Homo sapiens: one gene and its partner. The protein of the gene in region 2 purifies or fractionates together with the protein of the main gene of each other region. This does not show direct contact. Each region holds a gene or a part of one and is shown on either strand. Other genes may lie near its edges. The genes, in order: FGR and CCR3.

What was found.
Region 1: the proteins of CCR3 (region 2) and FGR purify together in Homo sapiens (affinity purification with western blotting, with the first as the bait; one study listed by BioGRID). This does not show direct contact.

What each region holds. Positions count from the first base shown.
Region 1 is NC_000001.11:27,621,425-27,625,459, forward strand, and holds part of FGR (tyrosine-protein kinase Fgr), read right to left. Parts: intron 3,728-4,035; 5' UTR 3,665-3,727; intron 2,506-3,664; 5' UTR 2,493-2,505; coding exon 2,267-2,492; intron 1,721-2,266; coding exon 1,618-1,720; intron 234-1,617; coding exon 135-233; intron 1-134. UniProt on the Homo sapiens protein: Non-receptor tyrosine-protein kinase that transmits signals from cell surface receptors devoid of kinase activity and contributes to the regulation of immune responses, including neutrophil, monocyte, macrophage and mast cell functions, cytoskeleton remodeling in response to extracellular stimuli, phagocytosis, cell adhesion and migration.
Region 2 is NC_000003.12:46,241,072-46,245,259, reverse strand, and holds the start of CCR3 (C-C chemokine receptor type 3), read right to left. Parts: upstream 2,801-4,188; 5' UTR 2,722-2,800; intron 1-2,721.

The DNA of each region.
Region 1 (4,035 bases), on a different chromosome or scaffold from region 2:
CACAATGACCTTACAAAATTATTAGATAAGGAGACAGGCTCGGACTGGAGCAATGACTTGTCCAAGAGGTGGCCTTGGAGTCTGGACTCCAGGGTCCTGTCCATAGGGCTGGTCTTGCCCCAATCCCTACTTACTCTTCAGCTTGGATTGAGTCAACAGGGGCCACGTAGTTGCTGGGAATGCAGCCAGTTTTTCCGGAGCTGAGAGACCGAGCCTCCCACCAGTCACCTTCACTGTAGGCACAGAACAGGGCATGGTCAGCAGCACCTCCAGCCCCCAAGGCACCCTGAGGCCAGGTGGAGCCACACAGGTCTGCAGAGATGAATCCTGCCAAACCCTCATCTTGGACACCCCCCACCACTGGGGCTTTTGTCCGCTCTGCCCCAGCCACTGCAGCTTCCCTGGGAGGGCTTGTCCCTGCAGAAGGAATAAGCTCGGGGGCACTTAGGGCTCTTAGCTTCTTCCTTGGGCTCCCCAGCTGGGTTGGGCTGGGGATTGGGAATTCAGAGGACAGCTGACTAGGTCACTTCCCCACAGAAAATGGCTACTGATTTCCTTCTGGATAAAATCTAGACTTCTCAATGTGGCTTAAAAAGCCTGACAGAGACCAGGTGTGGTGGCTCATGCCTGTAATTCCAGCAGTTTGGGAGGCCCAGGCAGGCAGATCTCCTGAGGTCAGGAGTTCGAGACCATCCTGGCCAACATGGTGAAACCCTATCTTTACTGAAAATACAAAAAATTAGCCAGGCTTGGTGGCTCTTGCCTGTAGTCCCAGGATCACTGGAACCCAGGAGGCGGGGGTTACAGTGAGCCAAGATTGCACCACTGCACTCCAGCCCGGGAGACAGAGCGAGACTCCAACTCAAAAAAAAAAAAAAAAAAAAGCCTGGCAGAATCTGCCTCTGCCTACCTCTCTAGCCTCTGTTCTCTCCCATTCTGCATCCCATATTTTATGAACCACCTAAGGTGAACCACTTTGTGGTTTCCAGAAGTCATCATTTATTCTCATTCTCTCTCACTCTCTTCCTCTTTTCTTACCTCTTCCTTCACTGTCTATTCATTTTTATTTTTTATTTTTTAATTATTTATTTATTTTTTTGAAATGGAGTCTCCCTCTGTTGCCTAGGCTGGAGTGCAGTGGTGCAATCTCAGCTCACTGCAACCTCTGCCTCCCGGGTTCAAGTGATTCTTCTGCCTCAGCCTCTCAAGTAGCTGGGATTACAGGCATGCGCCACCATGCCCTGCTAATTTTTGTATTTTTAATAGAGACAGGGTTTCACCATGTTGGCCAGGCTGGTCTCGAACTCCTGACCTCAGGTGATCCACCCGCCTTGGCCTCCCAAAGTGCTGGGATTACAGGCATGAGCCACTGCACCCGGCCGTCTATTTCATTTTTATAGCCTCAGCTTAAAAATCATCTCCTCCAGGCCGGGTGCAGTGGCCCAACACCACCCCCCTCAACCAGCACACAGTTGCAGTCACCCAGGGTTTTTATTGTTATGTATATGTGTTCCCAACTAGGCTGGAGCATTCTGAGGCTAGGGACCAGGTGGGATTCCTGTCTGTGTCCTGCTCCCAGCCCAGGCAATGTTCTGACTAGGTGGCCTGGTCACTTACGTATTGTTCAGGATGTGGAACTTCTCGCCCTTGGTGAAGGTGAGGTCATCCTCAGTTCGAGCCTCATAGTCATACAGGGCAATGAACAGGGTCACCCCAATCCCTGCAGAGTCAGGGCTACTCAGCAGGGTAGGGCATGGGGCAGAAGCACCAAGGGGGCTGCACCCCAAATTCCTGTTCCCCAGCCAGGTGCTGCACCTCCCCACTCCTTTAGTGCTCTGGTTCCCAAAGGCCTTTGGGGTCCAAGGAATTTCTGATTTGGTCTCCACAGCTTAGGACACACAACTTCAAGCCCATTCCTCCCACCATGGAGGATCCCCTTGTTGCCCACTCCTCCTCTTCCCCACCAAGAAGACTTCCCATCTGGGAAGTGGCACCTAAAAGGGCAAGAAGTTTCTCTTTGTCACTTGCATCTGTCACAGGATCCTGCCCCTCTCAGACTGGGAGTAGAGCTTCTTGACCCTCCCCTGCAGACTGTGGTTTCTGATGGGAGGGCTGTACAGACTCCCTCAGCCCATGTGATCTTGAAAGCGGGGTTGTATCTGCCACATCCTCCTGGAGGCTCCTAAGGGCAAGTTCGCATCTCTTCTTCTTCCCTCAGTTTCTCCCAGGATCCAGGCAGCTCCTGCCTCCGACCCCTTGGACTCACCTGACACACCCCTGATGGTGCCACTATCAAGGAAGCCAGGGTTGATGGCCTGAGAGGAGAAGTTGCTGTAGTTGGGGATGTGGGCAAATGAGGATGCAGGCCGGGCCTTAGTGGGGTCAGGCCCATAGTGGTCTGCTGCCCCGTAGCTTCTGAAGTCCCCTTCCAGGCCAGCATCCTCCTTGGCCGTGGCCACCGGCTCCAATTTCTTGCAGAACACACAGCCCATTCCAGGTTCCCTGCTACAGAATGGGGCATGCCTCACTCAAGGACCCCTGCCAGGTGCACCACCCTGTGCACACACGCGCATGCACATGCTCATACGCTCATACAGGCACGTGGCTTTCCCTCTTGGGCCTAGATTGGGGTCCTCCCTGTAAGGGATAAAGGCGGAACTGGGCCACCTACTGTACCGTTCAGTCTGCCTCACAGTATGTCCCCCCTCAGTGCTTCTCTTCCCATTGGCTCATGTCTATATCTCTGGGGCTGGCTTTCTACATTGGGATATTGCTATGCTTATTTGCATATTTTTGCCTCCTATTGCTTTGCTTTTTTTGTTTTGTTTTGAGACAAGATCTCACTCTGTTGCCCAGGCTGGAGTGCAGTGGCACAATCATAGCTTGCTGCAGCCTTGATCTCCTGGGCTCAAGTGATCCTCTGGTCTCAGCCTCCCAAGAACTGGGACTATACAGGTGCGTGCCAGTACCCCTGGCTAATTTGTTTGATTTTTAGTAGAGACAAGGTCTTGCTATATTGCTCAGGTTGGGTCCTATTGCTTTGATATGTTGTGTTTCTGTGACTCTTTCAGTGTGCTTGTACATGTGCGTCTTTGTGTGTCTCTAAGTATGGGTGAGTTTGCCTGTGTGGGTATGCATGTGTGTGCAGCTCTTTGTGGATGTCTGTCTGTGTGTGCAGGTTTGTGTGTATACGAGAGTGTATAAAAGTCTCTGTGTATGTGTTTGGCTGCATGTGTATATGTCTGTAAGACCGTGTTTGTGTGCATGTGTTTCTGTGTGAGTATGTGTGTGCCTGTCTGTGTGAGTGGGTGTCTCTGTGTCTGTGTGTCTATGAATGTGCACCTATCTCTGTGTGGGAGCAGTGTGCCTGTCTCTGGATGTGTGTATCTCTGCATGTATGTCTATATATCTGCGCATGTTTGTGTGTGAGTGTGTGTGAGGCTGTGTGTCTGCACCTGGAGAGTCACTGCAGAGGGGGATCAAGGCCATTTCCTGTCGTGGGTCCAGCCTTCAGCCTCTCAAGCTGCCTCATTCTGGCTCCCCCATCCGTTACCTAGCAACAGGGTCCTTGTAGGAGGAGGAGGCTGTGAGGAGTTGTGGGGTTCAGGAAGGCCACCCCCACCCTGTTTCCTGACCCTGAAAGCCCTCAGTCTACCCCACTCACCCCTTAGGCCCCTACTCCTGGGTCAGTGGGGCTGCGGCATGATCCTTGGGAGGGGTCAGAGACCTGAGGGTGAGACAGAAGGACAAGGAAGATGAAGTCTCTGCCAATGTTTCTGTCAGCAGCTGCCCAGCTCCTGCCCTCTTCAGGAAGCCAGAAGGCCTGGGCTCTGCCCCAGCATGACTTCTGCCTTCACTTTCCTTCCTATCACCCCTGGCACACTTACACAACCCCCGTCACATAGGGCAAACCACCCACACCAGCTCTCTTTCACACTCATACTCACCTGACCCACCAGCACAGTCACACAATAACACTCACAGCATATATTTGCATGAGTGTGCGTGCCAACCCCATCACACGCCAATACAGGC
Region 2 (4,188 bases):
TGGAAATACACAAGAAGAGCCTCTCAAAGTTCAAATCATGAATGAATGCAGTCTTCTTTCCAGCCACAAACATTTCCCAGAATTGGTATTTTAGGGCAGCACATGGATTTCCAGAGCTTCCAATCATTAATAATAGTTACTAATGCAAAAGTTACACCTCATGCTTGTGTCTTTCAGAATTGTGTCTGAGTGCGGTCAGTTCATCTTAAGTGACAGGGTTTCGCCCACCAGCCAAATGATTTTGGATTATTGAAGGAGTTGGTCATGAAGAATATGTTTTCACAAGGAAAGTATGCATATACATTCCAAATAACATGGTTGTGGGATAGTCACCATGACCAGAATTTCAGCTTTCTGGGACCCAGTGCTTCCACCTCCAACTGTGCTATGGAGAGAGAGCCACTGCCTTTCCAGGTACCATGTATGTTATAATTGACAGTGTCAGGCCTCTGAGCCCAAGCCAAGCCATCACATCCCCTGTGACTTGCACATATATGCCCAGATGGCCTGAAGTAACTGAAGAATCACAAAAGAAGTGAAAATGCCCTGCCCCGCCTTAACTGATGACATTCCACCACAAAAGAAGTGAAAATGGCTGGTCCTTGCCTTAAGTGATGACATTACCTTGTGAAAGTCCCTTTTCCTGGCTCATCCTGGCTCAAAAAGCTCCCCCACTGAGCACCTTGTGACCCCCACTCCTGCCCGCCAGAGAACAAGTCCCCTTTGACTGTAATTTTCCTTTATCTACCCAAATCCTATAAAACGGCCCCACCCTTATCTCCCTTCGCTGACTCTTTTCGGACTCAGCCTGCCTGCACCCAGGTGATTAAAAAGCTTTATTGCTCACACAAAGCCTGTTTGGTGGTCTCTTCACACGGACGCGCATGAAAGATAGTACACTTGTATATCATTTTGTATTCTGATACCTTAACTTCTTTACCTTTCACCTAGTTCCTTGTGGCTAAAAATTACTTAAAAATGTAATTTGTAATGACTCCAACATATTGTATAGATAATCATGCTTATTTAACCATTGCCTTTTTGTTGTGTGATTAAGTTATTCACAATTTGCTCTGCTATAAATAATACTGCAATAAACATATTTGTGTGCATTTTAAAATTATTTCCTTAAGGTATATTACACAAATCACAATTTCTACATTGAATTATATTTCGAAGTCTCTTGATGCATTTTGTCAAATTGCTTCCAGAAAGTGTGTAACAATATATATACTCTTGGCACTAGTAGGTGATGGTGCCCATTTCAGCAAGCATCCATCAATATGGAGAAGATCTAAAAGAAAGAAAAAATTACTTGGCCAATTAGATGGGCAAAAGGGTTGCCATTATTGTTGTAATTAACATTTATTTCATTACTGATTTTTTTTAACTACAAGTATTAGTCATTCATATTTCCCTTCCTGTGATTTATCTCTTTGTGCCCTTTACCCAATTTATTCTGCTGTACAGATCTGCTTTTTTCTTATTAAGTCATACAAAGGGCTCATATTTCTTCTCCCAGAAGAGCTAACTCATCCTGCGTGGTTCAGTGTAATCATCACCATTTTCTGGAAAGAGCTGCACTTCAAAAATATACTTCAACTTATACCACATCCATGTGGAAGACCCCTTATTCCCACCACTCTCACTTGAAGTACTTGTCAAAGTTAACACTCATCCTCTGTCAATCCAGGCGTTTCCAGAAGAATCGGTAAGGCTTTCTAGCTCTACCCTCTAACACAGACAATCTCATTCACCCAGAAAAAAAGACACCAAATCAATCAACTGACTCATCTAGTAGCTTGATTTAGTGTGGATTTTCAATGAAAACTTCAAATAAATATATATATTTCCACACATACATACTTAATGCACACACACATATGTATATAATCAGCCCTCTGTATCCATGGGTTCCACATTTGTGTATTCAACCAATCACGGATCAAAAATATCTGGGAAAAAGCTCCACAAAGTTGCAAAAACCAAGCCTTGAATTTGCCACGCAGCAAGTGCTATGTTGACTCCACATGAATGAAGCGCTCTGTATGCGTTGTATTAGGTATTACAAGTAATCTAGGTACTTGTATTTAAAGGGTACTGGAGGATATTTGTAGGTTATCAGCAAATACTACATCATTTTATATAAGGAACTTGAGCATCTATGAATTTTGGTATCTGCAAGGGTCCTGGAACAAATCCCTCACAGATACTGAGGGAGGACTTTGTATATATAAAAATGTATGTGTGTGTGCGTATATATATATATATATATATGTGTATATATATATATATACACATATATATGTAAAATTATATTTTTGCTATTTCTTACAAGTCAATATAAATAAACACAAGCTATTAAGTGTAAGCTCTTTGGAGTAGTCATATGCACATAGTTGAGAATTTGTGAAAGTATAGGAGGGTAACATGGGCACAGATGTTGACTAAAGAGGTATAAAGGGCCAAGTTTGGGTGAGTGCTACACGCAAACTTATCATTGTGTGGATGGGAGACAGAAAGGGAAAATTAGAAAAAGCAAGAAGAAAATGGAGATATGTGGCCATATTTTCTCCCACTCTGGCCCCATACTACCTCTAAATTGCTGTGTACCTTCCTCTCCTCCCTCCTAGATCCAAGAGCACTGCTGGAAGTTACTACTTCCACCTGCCTGGACCCCTCCTTGTTCCACCTCCCTTTTCCTGGAAAAGCGACACCTACCTGAAAATCTCTTCTAAGTAAAAACTTCTATTGTATTTCGATAAGTTCTTGCCCGGATAAGCACAAGAAGACCAGTGGTACCTGCTAATTTAGTGAAGTCCTTGATATGTCCAGTGATAGCTTAGGCGTCACCACTCCTGAAACAGAGATACCATCAGATCACAGACATTAGTAAAGTAGTAAACAATGTAAGTATATAACTTCCTGTTTTAAACAGACTAGCTTCTCAGTTTTGCAAGTTTTCAGAAAGATACTTTCGTGCAGTTCTTCTTTTTCATGATTGACACCACATACTAACCAGTCACCTGAGAAATCCTTGCAATTAGTGCTGCTTTAGGGGCTCTCCACCCATTGGCATTGCTCATTTTTAGTGGTGGGGGGTTGTTATAATTTTTTTTTTTTTTTTAAGACAGGATTTCATTCTGTCACCCAGGCTGGAGTACAGTGGCATGATCTCAGTTCACTGCAACCTCCACCTCCTGGGTTCAAGGGATTTTCCTGCCTCAGCCTCTGGAATAGTTGGTATTAGAGGCACATGCCACCATGCCTGGCTAATTTTTGTATTTTTAGTAGAGACAGGGTTTCACCATGTTGGCCAGGCTGGTCTCAAACTTCTGACCTCAAGTGATCTGCGAGTCTCGGCCTCCTAAAGACCTGGGATTTATAATTCTTGAATAAGCATTGATTTGACTCATCGGGAGACAGGATGAAGAATGAAATAAGAATTTCCCGGCAAAGGAATAAACTAATTATTCTGCAGGGTCCAGTAGACACTTGGATGGGGCAAAATGTGGCTGCAAAGGTTTAGACAAGTCTAAAAGACTTGAGTTTGAGTTTCAGTTGTGGCATACACAGCTACATAAGCTGGGGGTAGTAATTTAAACTTGCTGGACCTCAGCTTTTTCATCTCTAAACTGGAAATAATGATATTTAAGTCATAGCATTGCCGTGGAACCAACTAAGATAAATATGTGAAAAGTCTCTGCAGAATATACAGGGCTAAGGAAATGTAAAGTGTGGGTAGAATGCCACTGTGACATAAGCGTCATAGGGCAGAGCCATGTCTCAGGGCAAAGCGTCACAGGGCAGAGCCATGTGCCTGCTGTATGTGCTGATGTGTCCCTTGGGACCTAGCATGGCACTGGGCACAGAGCAGGTATTCACCCAATATTTGTGGGAAGAACTCTGACTAAGCATGAAGTGATCTTTGATACACTGACTAACTCGACAAATGAGTGTAATGCACCAAAGTGTTTATCAAACGTTTGATATGTGTGTAGGACTGTGCTGTATGCTTCATGATAAAGAAAACATAGGAACAAAAGACAAAGAAAGAGGAAGGAGGATAAGAGAGACAGAGAGAGAGAGAGAGCGCACACACATGTGCATTAGAGAGAGAGAGAAAGAATAGGGAGAGAATTTGAGAGAAAGAGAAGAAAGGGAGGAAGGGGCTCAGTTTCCACCTTA